Homo sapiens: one gene and its partners. The protein of the gene in region 3 purifies or fractionates together with the protein of the main gene of each other region. This does not show direct contact. Each region holds a gene or a part of one and is shown on either strand. Other genes may lie near its edges.

Region 1 (3,500 bases), on a different chromosome or scaffold from region 3:
GAAAAAATAAAAACAAAAAAATCCCAGCAACAATAATAATAATAATAATTAGCCAGGTGTGTTGGTGTGTGCCCTGTAGTCCCAGCTACTCATGAAGTGGAGGTGGGAGGATCAACTGAGTCCGGAAGGTTGAGATTGCAGTGAGCCGTGATCACACACTGCACTCCACCCTGGGTGAAACAGCCCATCTCAAAAAACAGTTCATCATAAGCTGAAAAAAATCAGATCTGCTATTACACGAATTTTAAAAAGTGCACACGTAAAAGGACTGAGTACAGTAATAAATACCTGTGAACCTACCTCCCAACTTAAAGCAGGATACTAAAAAGTCAACTTCAATGAATTAATATGCCTAATTTAATAAATTCAACCCTGGTGATCAACGGGATGACAGGTGTCACAGCCAGATAGTCCTCACATTGGATAAGTTCACCACATAATTCCTTTTTTTGTAGAGATGGGGTCTTGCTATGTTGCCCAGGCTGGTCTTGAACTCCCAGCCTCAAGTGATCCTCCTGCCTTAGCCTCCCAAAGTGCTGGAATTACAGGCATGAGCTAACACATTCAGTCACACAAAACAATATTTAGAGATTTTTTTTCACTTCAGTCTTCATGTTTCTCTAGGAAAAGAGAAGGGCTTTGACTTAATGGTTAAAAACTAATATAAAAATTGGTAATATCAATCAAGGCACTTACATATAATATTGACAAACATGATTCTTTTTTCTAAATATTTCATTTTCCAAGGTAAGAAATTCGATAGCTATGTTTTTCTCTCCTTCTAAGGCATCCTTTTCCTTTTCCACCATCTTTACCCTGTTTAACTACAGAAATTAAAAGTTTAAAGACTGAATACACACTTCATATGTACAATATGAACTTAAAATATGCAAACATTAGATAAAAACAGTTAATAAGGAGAATGTTCATCTTAAATGTTAAGATATAAATTTCAATATAACACTTCTTCATTAAGTATTATAACATGAATATCTGACTTACTAAAATTTGTTAGATCATAAATGAAACATTCTGATTTACAATGAAAGTCTACAGATGATTCACCTTCTCTCCTCTGTGTTCATTTAATATTTCAACTCTCCGACACAAGACTTTAATAGGTTCATTTAGCCGTCCACAACCAATTATATCTTCTAAATATTCAAGCATACCCTCATCGTGTTCAGTCTGGCCTTTTGGTTTCATCATAGCAATTTGTTCAACTTCACCCTTTAAAAAAAAGTTATATTTCATACTCACTGTGTATGTTTAGCTAAATCAATCTTAAGTGAGAATTGGGAGCAGTTAAATAATAAAGCCAAGAGTAATAAACATCTAAATAATGTACAGTTAGTAGTGCAATGATTTAATAAGGTATAAATAAAAATGTTATTTTCACTGGTATTCCTAAGAGTTTTAATTTTACACAGGGAGATATGAAACATGAATTTATATTCCCTTAGATAAATCCTTATAAAAGTGTAATATACACCCACTTACACACACTCATTTCCCCAACTAGAATGTTCAATATAAATAAATAAAACTTGTTTCTTTAAGTAAAATTTAGGAAAGCTTTCACTTAATCTGCAATCTGATTATAGTGGAAACATTATCAATTGTTAATAACACAATTGAAGCTCCTGTTCTAAAACAAAGAATTTTCAAAAACACTTGCATGGTTAAACTGTGTTAGGAACCCTGTCCCAAAGTAGTATTACCAACTTTCTCTACAAACATGGTTTTTAGGAGTTCCTTAACAAGTAATGGGTTTCAAAGGTAGTCAAAAACTTACATGTTCAGTTTTCTAAAAACAAGAGCCTTTGACAGAAAAGGATATTACCTATTTCTCATGGTAATAACAGAAATCAAACAGACCACCTTGACTAGAGAAAACTAATGGCACTGGTACATAAGACATCAGAAAACTTTCAGTTTGTAATCACTAATATAACAACTTTGAACTGTAATTAAAATCTTAGATTAACTTTACATATTTGCATTTATGCAGTTTAATTATGAAGAGTAAAGAGAAAAAAAATCCATAATAAGTAACCATCAAGGCTGACTGCTAGGCAGTCATTTAGTTTGATGGTGGAGAGAAAATTGTGTCTGAGTATGTTCAGGCCAAATGCTGCTACGTTATAGGAGTAGCTTGTTTGTACTCTAGACTATTACAATGGAAGAATAGGTACAGGCAAATGAAAAAAGATATACCTCTTATTTTCAACAAAATAGCAAAGACGAAAAAAGTCAACAAAAAGAATTACACATTAAAAATAGTATATTGTTTTCTTAATTCAAATATCTTAGTGATTCCTATTTCCTAAGTGAATACAGGTGAACCTTAAAAATGTGGGGTAAAACTTACTAATGAGAGCATCATAATTCACCAAAAGCCTCAACATAATTACAAAAAGTAAACAATTCAATAACAGTGGACAAAACAGCTTATTTGAAAATCTACTCATTAAGAAATAATTTTATTTGCATAAATCACTTTTCGATACTTCTGACAGTCTATAAGCACAATGATTATCAAAGTAAAACTGTTACCCCAAAAGTTATTTTCCATAACATTCATTATATTATGTATGAATCGGTATATAAGTGAAAATATGTAGATATTTATATAAAGTATTTTATTCTGCTTTCAACTGTTAGTTCTCTCTAAATGTTTGCAGCAAGAGTTTAAGTTTTAGACAGGATTGAAGCCTGGAAAAATGCCCAAACCTTTGGATTACACAGGATGAACGTTAAGTCACTGAGGAAGCCAAGAGTCTTATTCAAGTTTGTATCTACGTAGGGTTTATCAACAGTGGCACTACTGACATTTTGGGCTGGATATTCTTTGTTGTGGAGAGCTATGCTGGGCATTATAAGATGCTTTAATAGCATTTCTGACCTTCACCCACTAGACACCAGTAGCATCCCCACTTCTACCAGCTATAACAACCGAAACTGTCTTCAGACGTTACTGAATGTCCTATGGGAAAAGGGGCAGAATTACTGTCAGCTGAGAACTACTGATCTAGAGGCTGCAGTTTGTTTGTTCACTCATTTATTATTTTTTTGAGACAGGGTCTTGTTCTGTCACCTAAGCTGGAGTACAGTGGTGTGGTCTCAGCTCACTGCAGCCTTGACCTTTCAGACTCAAGCGATCCGCCCACCTCAGTGTCCCAAGTAGCCGGGACTACAGATGCACACCACCACACCCAGCTAATCTTTAAAAAAAAATTTTTTTTGTACACATGGTGGTCCCTCTATGTTGCCCAGGCTGGTCTCGAACTCCTGGGCTCAAGCGATCCTTTTGCCTCAGCCTCCCAAAATGCTGGGATTAAGGGCATGACCCACCATGCCTAGTCTAGAAGTTGTAGTTTAAATCCTGTGGGTTAGTGTTTATCATCCAAATAAAAAACAATATCTGACAATTAATATTCTACCCAATTCAAGGAGAATATCTGAACACTTATTTTAAGAAAATGAAAAACCATCCCAAA
Region 2 (3,500 bases), on a different chromosome or scaffold from region 3:
TTATTTTAAAGTCAGTTTCTACAGGTATAGAACATTGATTAAGGAGTTATGTCATGGAGTCTGGGCATGATGGCTCACGCCTTAATCCCAGCACTTTGGAAGGTTGAGGCCAGCAGATCATTTAAGCCCAGGAGTTCGAGACCAGCCTGGGCAACATGGCAAAACCCTGTCTCTACAAAAAATAATTTTAAAAAATTAGCCTGGCATGGCGGTGCATGCCTGTAGTCCCAGCTACTTGAGTGGCTGAGGTGGGAAGACCACTTGAGCCTGGGAGGTGGAGGCTGCAGTGAGCTGTATTAGTGCCACTGCACTTCAGCCTGGGCAACACAGCAAGACGTTGTCCCAAAAAAAGGGTAAAGGTTATATCATTAAGTAGCAAGGCATTAAAAGTCCATTAACCTGTGTGCAGCTTCTTTGTTCAGTACATACAGATTTGTACTCTAGCAGCTGGCCATCTAACATAGGGCAGCCAAACAGTGGCCTACTGCATTCCTGATCCCATATCTCCCTAGCTTTAGCCATAATGAGGTAGTGCTAAGGTGGCCCTTGATTCTATAAAGTTCAGGTTTGACTTTTTTTTTAACTTAGGGATTTTACAAAAGACTCTTTGTCTGAGCAAAGCTCATATCTTTCTGACCTCATCCAGGAATAGAAGAAGAGAAAAATGCAATTTCCGTGGGTTGAGCTGAGCACTTTTAAATGTCTGCAGGCTTTCTTGCTTCCCACTTTTCCATTCTTTCTCTGTGGTAGCTAGGACTACAGGAGTGTTGCCACCATGTCTGGCTCATTAAAATTTTTTTTTATTTTTATTTTTTAAGATGAGGTCTGTGTTGCCCAGGCTGGACTCAAACTCTTGGGCTCAAGCCATCCTCCCACCTTGGCCTCCCGAAGCCCTGGGATTACAGATGTGAGCAATTGTACCTGGCTAGAGCAGCAATTCTTAAGAGTGATAAACCAGAAAAAAATTGAGATATTTTAGTCAGAGATCATTTGAGTATTGCCTCGATTTGTTGTGTGACATTGGACAGATCACTGATTCTCTTTTCTCACCGATTCTCTTTTCTCACCTGTAAAATGTACATTTGAAAAGTACAGTGGGGGTCAGGGACACAGGCTCACACTTGTAATCCTAGTGCTTTGGGAGGCTGAGGCAGGAGGATCGCTTGAGACGGAGTTCAAGACCAGCCTGGGCAACATGGTGAAACCCCATTACTACAAAAAATAAAAAAACTAGGCCGGGTGCAGTGGCTCACGCCTGTAATCCTAGCAATTTGGGAGGCTGAGACAGGCAGATCACCTGAGGTCAGGAGTTCAAGACCAGCCTGGCCAACATGGTGAAACCCCATCTCTCTACTAAAATACAAAAATTAGCCAGGCATGATGGCGGGTGCCTGTAATCCCAGCTACTCGAGAGGCTGAGACGGGAGAATCGCTTGAACCCGGGAGATTGTGGTTGCAGTGAGCTAAGATTGCACCACTGCACTCCAGCATGGGTGACTGAGCGAGACTCTGTCTCAAAAAATAAATAAATAAATAAATAAAAATAAATTTAAGAAACCTAGCCAGGCGTGGTAGCGTGTGCCTGTGGTCCCAGCTACTTGGGAGGCTAGGATGGGAGGATCACTTGAGCCCAGGAGGCAGAGGCTGCAGAGAGCTGAGATCACGCCACTGCACTCCAGCCTAGGCAGCAGAGCAAGACCCTGCCTCAAAACCCGCCCCCCCAAAACCCAAAAACTAGCATTATTGGTTCATAGAGTTTGTTTCAAGAATTTTTTCTTTGCAGAGTAAAACACTGTCTTTTTTTTTTTTTTTTTTTTTTGAGATGGAGTCTTGCTCTGTCGCCCAGGCTGGAGTGCAGTGGCGCGATCTCGGCTCACTGCAAGCTCCACCTCCCAGGTTCACGCCATTCTCCTGCCTCAGCCTCCCGAGTAGCTGGGACTGCAGGCACCCGCTACCATACCCGACTAATTTTTTTGTATCTTTAGTAGAGATGGGGTTTCACCATGTTAGCCAGGATGGTCTCTATCTCCTGACCTTGTGATCCGCCTGCCTTGGCCTCCCAAAGTGCTGGGATTATAGGCATGAGCCACTGCACCCGCCAACACTGTCCATTTTTAAGGGAATTTGAGAAAAATAGAAACCATCATACTTTTCTCAAAATTAGGGTTAATCTTGGATTACAAAAGCCTGTCTCCCATCCCAGGACTTCTTTTGGAAATTGTTTTTTAGGGACTGGAGTTCTGGCTCTGTCACTTGAAACAGTCTTAAAACTGGATCTGGGGCCGGGTGCGGTGGCTCATGCCTGTAATCCCAGCACTTTGGGAGGCTGAGGCGGGCAGATCATGAGGTCAGGAGATTGAGACCATCCTGGCTAACACGGTGAAACCCTGTCTCTCTACTAAAAATACAAAAATGAGCCGGGCGTGGTGGCGGGTGCCTGTAGTCCCAGCTACTGGGGAGGCTGAGGCAGGAGAGTGGCATGAACCCGGGAGGCGGAGCTTGCAGTAAGCCGAGATCGTGCCACTGTACTCAAGCCTGGGGGACAGAGCGAGACTCCGTCTCAAAAAAAAAAAAAAAAAAGAAAAATAACTGGATCTGACAAAGAGCCCAGAAGCTTATTGGAGACAGCAGAACCTGGCTGGGATGAGGGAGGGAGCTGGAGAAGCCAAACAGATCACTCTTACCCTGCTCTATTTTGCCATTCCAGGTCGTCTCATCGCTGTCACCTGCCTGGTGTCTAGCTGGTGTCGGTGTCCTTGTGAACCTGGCTAACCCTGTTTACCTTGCTGCCCTGGCCTAGGAGTAGATACAAATTCTCAGGGCCTTGAGGAATCTGGGTTTTAGGGAATATTTTTGAGGGCTTAAAGAAGCTTCTATTCTTAAAGAGCTTTAGTTTGAGTAGATTTGGAATCAAAACAAGGCTCAGAGATCTGCTGGGAGTTACAAGATTTCTCTTTAATTATTGCATCTAGTGTCCCCTGTTTCTACTGAACAAAGCTTGGAAACAGTGAGGAAGAGTTGACATTCTGAGTGTGTCTTACGGGAAGCAAAAACATTTATTGGGCTTATTGTGCCAGATTGTGTGTGTGTGTGTGTGTATGTTATTCTATTACTGTGTTACATGCTTAACTATAGTCACTACAGCAATTCTGATAGTAATCAGGAGGAATAATAAGATACTCTTTTCTTTGAGACAGTCTTGCTGTGTCACCAGGCTGGAGTGCAGTGGCGCGATGTTGGCTTATTGCAGCCTCCATCTCCCAGGTTCAAGCTCCTCCCACCTCAGGCTCCAGAATATCTGGGATTGCAGGCGTGTGCCACCACGCTTGGCTAATTTTTGTACTTTTTTAAAATTTGAGGTGAGGTTTCATCATGTTGCCCAGGCTGATCTCGAACTCCTGGCATCAAGCAATCTGCCTGCCTCAGCCTCCCAGAGTGTTGGGATTACAGATGTGAGCCACTATGCCTAGCCAAGATACCGTTTTACTACTAAAAACAGT
Region 3 (3,500 bases):
TATAAACACTTTTAAACATAAATATCAAATGCATGAGAATCATATGGGCAGATAAATTTAGGAAGCCAAGAACACAGAACGAAAAGCCAGTCACCAGATCTTACAAATAATCATCTAAACTTCTCTGGCCATTCAATTTGATACATTATCCCAAATATTCCATGTCACATGGTCCACAAGGTTTTCTTTTGGGATTCTGAAGCAATCAATAGCCATACTTGTCATTAAGATGGGTTCTGCCATCTCCACTTTGACCTAGATCAGAATATAAAAAAAGAAATACATTATTTACTCTTCCAAAGTCAGGAGAGAAAAGATATCCAGATATCAGTAGGCCAAAAAGTAAAATAGACAAAAAGGTTTATTCTACGGTAGAAATTTTACTTTTTGTATGAAATTTCAAAATACAGCCCTCTTTCATTTCTACCCTAACATTTGTTAGCATAGAAAAAGCAGACATCTCAAGTAACTAAATTATATTAGTTACTAATATATTAGAAATCTCAAGCTGTGATGAACATATGAGGAAGTAAGTATCTCATACATTGCTTTAAGGGTGTGTGTATGAGCATAAAACTGGTACAATCTCTATAGAATGCAATTTATAATATCTTTAAAATGTTTATACCTTTGATCCAGCAGGTTAACTTTTATGATTTTTTTTCTATAGATGCTCCTCTCTACTTAGCATTTTATATATAAGTATCCATAAGAAACTAACAACAATTGGTTGTCTTGTGAGGAAAACAACCGAGTAGCTGAGGCACAGCCAGAATTGTTTTCCTTTCTTTTGACTTGGTAAAACCCAGATAACATTACACCTGTAAACACTTCCGTATATATTCCTAGAAGACAAGGACTTTTTCCAAAAAACATAACTCAACATCATTCACACTTTAAAAAAATAAAAAATAATTTCTTAGTATCATCAAATATCCAGGTAGTGTTCAAAATTATCTGACTGGCTAATAATTTTTTTAAACAGTTGTTTGTTTGAATAAGGATCCAAACATGGTATACAAATTATCACTACATACTCTTGTAACTTTCTTATGTTGAACCTTAAATCTATATTACCTATTCAAAAATATAAATAAATGAACCTTAGAGGAAAAAAAAGTAAAAACAATCTACCTTCAGGTGGGACCCACACACAGTAGTCTGGGTCATCTTCAGGATATTTGGAAGAAAGTGTTGGTGGAAGCTAAAAAGAAAAGATGGATTGTTTTATTCACAAGAATTTCTCTCCAGAAACCTTACAACTGCAGAAGGGATTGGGGTCCTATTGTTAGCCTCCTTAAGCAGAATAAACATTAGTCAAGAATTTTGTATCCAACAAAACTAAGTTTCATGAATGAAAGAGAAATAAAGTCTTTTTCAGACAAGCACATGCTGAGGGAATTTGTCACTACCAGACCAGACCTACAAGAAATGCAAAAAGGAGTTCTAAATCTTAAAACAAAAGGTTGGCATGCACCAGAATAGAACCTCTTGAAAGCATAAAACTCACAGGGCCTATAAAACAATAATGTAATGAAGGAAGAAAAGTATCTAGGTAACAATCAACATGATGACTGTAACAGTACCTCACATCTCAATATTAACATTCAATGTAAATGGTCTAAATACTCCACTCAAAAAAAAAAAAAAAATCACAGGCTGGGCGCAGTGGCTCACACCTGTAATCCCAGCACTTGGGGAGGCTGAGGTGGGTGGATCACCTGAGGTCAGGAATTCAAGACCAGTCTGGCTAACGTTGCAAAATCTCTACTAAAAATACAAAAATTAGCCAAGTGTGGTGGTGTGTGCCTGTAGTCCCAGCTACTCGGGAGGCTGAGGCAGGAGAATCACTTGAACCCGGGAGGCAGAGGTTACAGTGAGCTGAGATCACACCACTGCACTCCAGCCTGAGCTACAGAGCGAGATTCCGTCTCAATAAATAAATAAATAAATAAATAAATCGCAAACCAAATATCTGCCATCTTCAAGAGACTCACTTAACATGTGAGGCTTCTTATAGACTAAAGGTAAAGGAGTGGAAAAAGATATTCCATACAAATGGAAGCCAAATGCAAGCAGCAGTAGCTTTTCTTATATCAAATAAAATAGAATTTAAAGCAACAACACTGAAAAAAAGACAAAGAAGGCTATTATATAATTATAAAAGGATCAACCCAACAAGAAGATATTACAATCCTAAATATATATGCACCTAAAACTGGAGCTCCCAGATTCATAAAACAACTACTACCAGACCTAACAAAAGAGAAAGACAGCAACACAATGATAGTGGAAGACTTCACACTCCACTGACAACAGCAAACAGATCATCAAGGCAGAAAGTCAACAAACACTGGACCTATACTATACTCCAGAACAAATCAACTAACATATTTACAGAACATCTACTCCAGAACTGCAGAATATACAATCTTCTCATCAGTGCCTGAAATATTCTCCAAGATAGACCATATGATAGACCACAAAACAAATCTCAAATTTAAAAAAATTGAAATCATATCAAGTATCTTCTCAGACCACAGTCGAATAAAACTAGAAACCAACTTGAAAAGGAACCTTCAAAACTATACAAATACATGGAAATTAAACAATCTGCTTCTAAATGATTTTTGGGTTAACAATGAAATCACTGGAAATTTAAAAATTCTTCAAAATAAATAATAGTGACACAAGTTATCAAAACCTCTGGGATACAGCAAAAGCAGTGCTAAGAGGAAAAATTTATAGTGTTAAATGCCTACATCAAGAAGTCTTGAGCCAGGCATGGTGACTCACGCCTATAACCCCAGCACTTTGAAAGGCCAAGGCAGGAGGATTGCTTGAGCTCAGGAGTTCAAGACCAGCCTGGATAACATAGCAAGACCTCATCTCTATTTAAAAAAGAGAGAGAGAGAGAGAGAGAAAAGTCTGAAAGATCACAAATTGACAACCTAATGTCACACCTCAAGGAACTAGAGGAACAAGAACAGACCAAATGAGGCTGGGCGCGGTGGCTCATACCTATAATCCCAGCACTTTGAGAGGCTGGGGTGGGCAGATCGCTTGAGTCCAGGAGTTCAAGACGAGCCTGGTCAACATGGTGAAATCCTGCTTCTAACAAAAGTACAAAAATTAGCTGGGCGTGGTGACACACGCCTGTAATCCCAGCTATTCAGGAGAGCTGAGGCAGGAAAATTGCTTGAACCCGGGAGGCAGAGGTTGCAGTGAGCTGAGATCGCACCACTGCACTCCCTGGGCAACAGAATGAGACTCTGTCTCAAAAAAAAAAAAAAAAAGAACAGATTAAACCCAAAGCTAGCATAAAAGAAATAACAAAGATCAGAGCAGAACTAAATGAAATTGAAACAAAAGAAACTGCAAAAGATCAATGAAAAAAAAGGTGGTTTTTGAAAAGATAAACTAAATTCATAGATCATTAGCTAGATTAGACAAGAAAAGAAGATTCTATATTAGTTCAATTAGAAAGGAAAATGGAGACA
Region 4 (3,500 bases), on a different chromosome or scaffold from region 3:
CATAGTATGCACTCAGTATACTGTTAAGATACTAATGGAAAATGTTATATAAAAAGATCTTACTATTTTCTCACATCAATATACAGACTGGCTTTAAGCACAAAATCTTTAAAATACCTTTTCAAAAGATCAACAATTCCTCTTTCAAAATTTTAATATCCTAAATGAACCTATTAAGTGTGCTAACACCCACACAGTAAAACCTGGAGAATATGTTAAAACCAATCTTAGTGACACTTTGGACTAGCATCCTTGTGACTGTTTTCCACTTGTTGTCTTCAAATGTCATTATAAACTCTAAAATATGTTAAGTTCTTTTTGAAAGGCCATATTTCAAAGGCTTCAAAAGGAAGCATCATATAGCTGTTCAAATGTTCAAAATTATTCCTTGCAAATGTTACTACTATTAGAATTTGCCAGGCTTAAGGCATTTTAACTGCAGAGGTAGGAGAAAAAAGACACTGACAACACAGAGGCATTTTAGTCCAGGGAGGCAACAGCACCTTATAGATAATACTATATGGAAAGCAAAATGTGTATCCCATACAATTGAAGTGTACTTTCAGGTACGTAATCTCTTTACGAAAACTTTCCACAAAGATGATAGTTAATGTGATGCTCTGTGGGTAGAATAAGTCACTTATTTAACATAAGCACTTGGGACTACCAATTATAAAAAACCATCAACTAGCAAGATTATTCCTGAAAAGCAAATCAGAAAAGCAACTCTTAACTAGCTTCCGTACCACTAGCTGTCTCCATTTCACACTGGCAGCTTTCGGGTCAATTACATAACAATTTTCAAAAGTTAAAAACCACAGAATATATAATTTTTATGAATAATGAGAATAGCTATTATTTAACGTAAACAGCTATTATTTAACTTATCTTCAAGGTATGAAAAACTTAAGGCATAATTAAAATTGCCTTAAAATAATCTATATGTATAAAAATATCCAAATAATTCGGAAAGAAAAGAAACAGCTTGCAATGAGGAGAAATGTCCCCATCTTTGCTCTGGGAAGCAAGTAAAGATAACTTTATGAAATCTTCTGATGTCCAAAAAAATCCGTTTTTGCAATACCAAAGCAAAACATTAAGGCATCTGAAACTGAAGCATATCATTATTTCTAAATAAGAGTTCTAAAGCTCAAAAGAGATTATTATCAAGCAGAAGTTAACCAGAACATTTTTAAAAGTTTAAGAGATGCATTTTTTTTTGCAAAAATGTAGTATCTTCTAAGTAGTTAAAATAAATGATATGGAAATAAAAAATAGTGAGGCTCAGTAATTAAGCTTAAGCTGGAAAAGAATACATGTTATGAAAATTTTAAGTAATTTTTTCTTCAAAATATTCAATAGATTCATTAAAACAAAGGAACAAGAAAAAAACTTCAGGAAATAAAAATATATCTTACAAGAATGTTCCACTTGGCAACTAGACTCTGCAGGACTCCCAGAAATACTAGCAGTTTCCTCAGTTGTCTTTCCTCTTAACCATGAAACCAAGCAGTATGATCCAGAGTGGTCACAACAAGCACTTTCTAAAATATCACACAAGGTATGACAAAGGAGTTCCTTCTGCTCTTCCTCTAAAAATAACCAAAGCATAAGTTATAATGGTTTCCTCTGGAAAAAAAAAAATTCTGTCATGAATAACAATAGTAAGAATGGGTTAATGATGAAAATCAAGCATTTTAAAAATGGGGGAAAAATCTCTAAATAGATTTTAAATTATGTCTTAGAAAAACAATGTGTTTGTGGATTAAAATATCACCACTTTAAATAAAGCCATCCAAATAACACCACCAAGTAGAAAAAGAATACTGAAAAATGCAGAACTAAACATTATGAAAGATCATAATGTGACACTGATCATCACTTTCTTAAAACTTTAGCAACTGCAGCATTTAAGCCAAGAGGTTTCCTCTACTGAAGAACTGAGCACAATGTAAAGGCCTGTTGAAACCTCTATTTTTTTTCCCTCACATCTGAATTAATCTAACGTCTATGATCACCCCGTCCCAAAGGGATAAGAATAATGAGATGAGAGACCGTCAGCACATATGTTACCAAAGTCCATTACATCAGCAGAAGCCAGTGGTTAGAATACAGATTTGAGCATTAGAATTTTATAGAAAATGGCGCAAATGCTCAGACCATCTCTTTATGAACCTTAGCCACACTCTTTTCAAGCAGTATTACTCTCAAGAAGTAGTATTACTTTCTGAAACTTTCAAAAATTTTATGATACAAGGAGGTTTCTGTCTCTCCTAATGGATTAACAGTTCTTTAACTGCAGGAACTATGCTGTTCACTTTCTAATCACCACAGTATTTATGACACTTATGACAATGCTTTACAAATGTTTTATCAAAGTGAATATAGTGAATATAGTATAAGAAATAGTATAAATTTTATTAAAAGTTCATTTCAAAAATAGTATCTCAAATAGTTTCTTCTCTACTAAAATTTGTTTTGTATTTCACCTATTAATTTAAAACTTATGGAAGTGATCCCTTAACTCTTAAATTCAAAATCATTAGTAGATTCTATAGTCATGGTTTGGAATGTAAGCTGTTACATCCTTAGATACAAAACTGGGATTGTAATGTGTCCTAACTTCTTCCAGAATTTACTGTGAGGTTCACAGGAAATTGTGTAAGTGAAGGAAAGATCTTTGTAAACTGTCACGTGGAATGCAAATTCTTGTTATTATAAGGTGGCACCACACATCTCTCTGGGTACAGAAGCTCATGTTACAGAAGCTATGACAGCTTCATTTGCAATTTCATCCAAAATTATTTGCAGTATTTGCATTGTGTAAGGCATTATACTAAAACATGCAGGAATATAATGATAATTCTGAGGTCTTGCCCACAGCTAAATAAGACTACAAAAAAAAAAAAAAAAAAAAGACTGTTCTTTATGGCATGCTGCCACCTAACAGTTCTAGGAAATGCACCGTGTTTTACCAAGAGGCCAAACGTTTTTCCCTTAGTTATACCATCATGTCTTATAACCCCTGGTTAGAAAGCCAAATTTGGAAATATGGAGTCACTGTTCATGAAACTTTCTAAAACATTTTAAAAGGAAACCTCAGGAAAAAAAATTCCCACTGATACTTGACTTTCTCAGATAATTTTAGATCATCTCTATTAAAACAGAGGAGGAAGCAAAAGTTTTAAAAGACAGCTATCATACCTGAACAATCCCGCCAAGAAGACTTCTCCGAAGAAAACAGGAGCTTCTTCAAAAGAAATGCCTTTACACAATTAAAGCAATAATTAGTGAAATGCATTATAACCATACATCATATCATTCTTCAATTTTAAAGTGGGAAAAAATAATGTGTACTCCCTTTCTAATCTTTTGACTAGTTCTGTAAAGATGTCAAATGGGTTCCCCTCACATTTGACAGGAACTGTGCAGTTATTTATTCAGAGTATACTGCTATAAACTTGATTCTAGATTCATAAAATTCTTCTTCTTCCACAATA

What was found. The genes of interacting proteins can lie anywhere in the genome.
Region 1: the proteins of SLC4A1AP (region 3) and SMC4 fractionate together in Homo sapiens (co-fractionation; one large-scale study listed by BioGRID). This does not show direct contact.
Region 2: the proteins of SLC4A1AP (region 3) and WIPF2 fractionate together in Homo sapiens (co-fractionation; one large-scale study listed by BioGRID). This does not show direct contact.
Region 4: the proteins of SLC4A1AP (region 3) and MINDY3 fractionate together in Homo sapiens (co-fractionation; one large-scale study listed by BioGRID). This does not show direct contact.

The regions. Positions count from the first base shown.
Region 1 is NC_000003.12:160,409,650-160,413,149, reverse strand, and holds part of SMC4 (structural maintenance of chromosomes protein 4), read right to left. Parts: intron 1,231-3,500; coding exon 1,066-1,230; intron 825-1,065; coding exon 697-824; intron 1-696. UniProt on the Homo sapiens protein: Central component of the condensin complex, a complex required for conversion of interphase chromatin into mitotic-like condense chromosomes.
Region 2 is NC_000017.11:40,267,804-40,271,303, forward strand, and holds part of WIPF2 (WAS/WASL-interacting protein family member 2), read left to right. Parts: intron 1-3,500. UniProt on the Homo sapiens protein: Plays an active role in the formation of cell surface protrusions downstream of activated PDGFB receptors. Plays an important role in actin-microspike formation through cooperation with WASL.
Region 3 is NC_000002.12:27,691,389-27,694,888, reverse strand, and holds part of SLC4A1AP (kanadaptin), read right to left. Parts: intron 1,205-3,500; coding exon 1,135-1,204; intron 256-1,134; coding exon 206-255; 3' UTR 1-205.
Region 4 is NC_000010.11:15,840,008-15,843,507, forward strand, and holds part of MINDY3 (ubiquitin carboxyl-terminal hydrolase MINDY-3), read right to left. Parts: intron 3,266-3,500; coding exon 3,205-3,265; intron 1,593-3,204; coding exon 1,419-1,592; intron 1-1,418. UniProt on the Homo sapiens protein: Hydrolase that can remove 'Lys-48'-linked conjugated ubiquitin from proteins.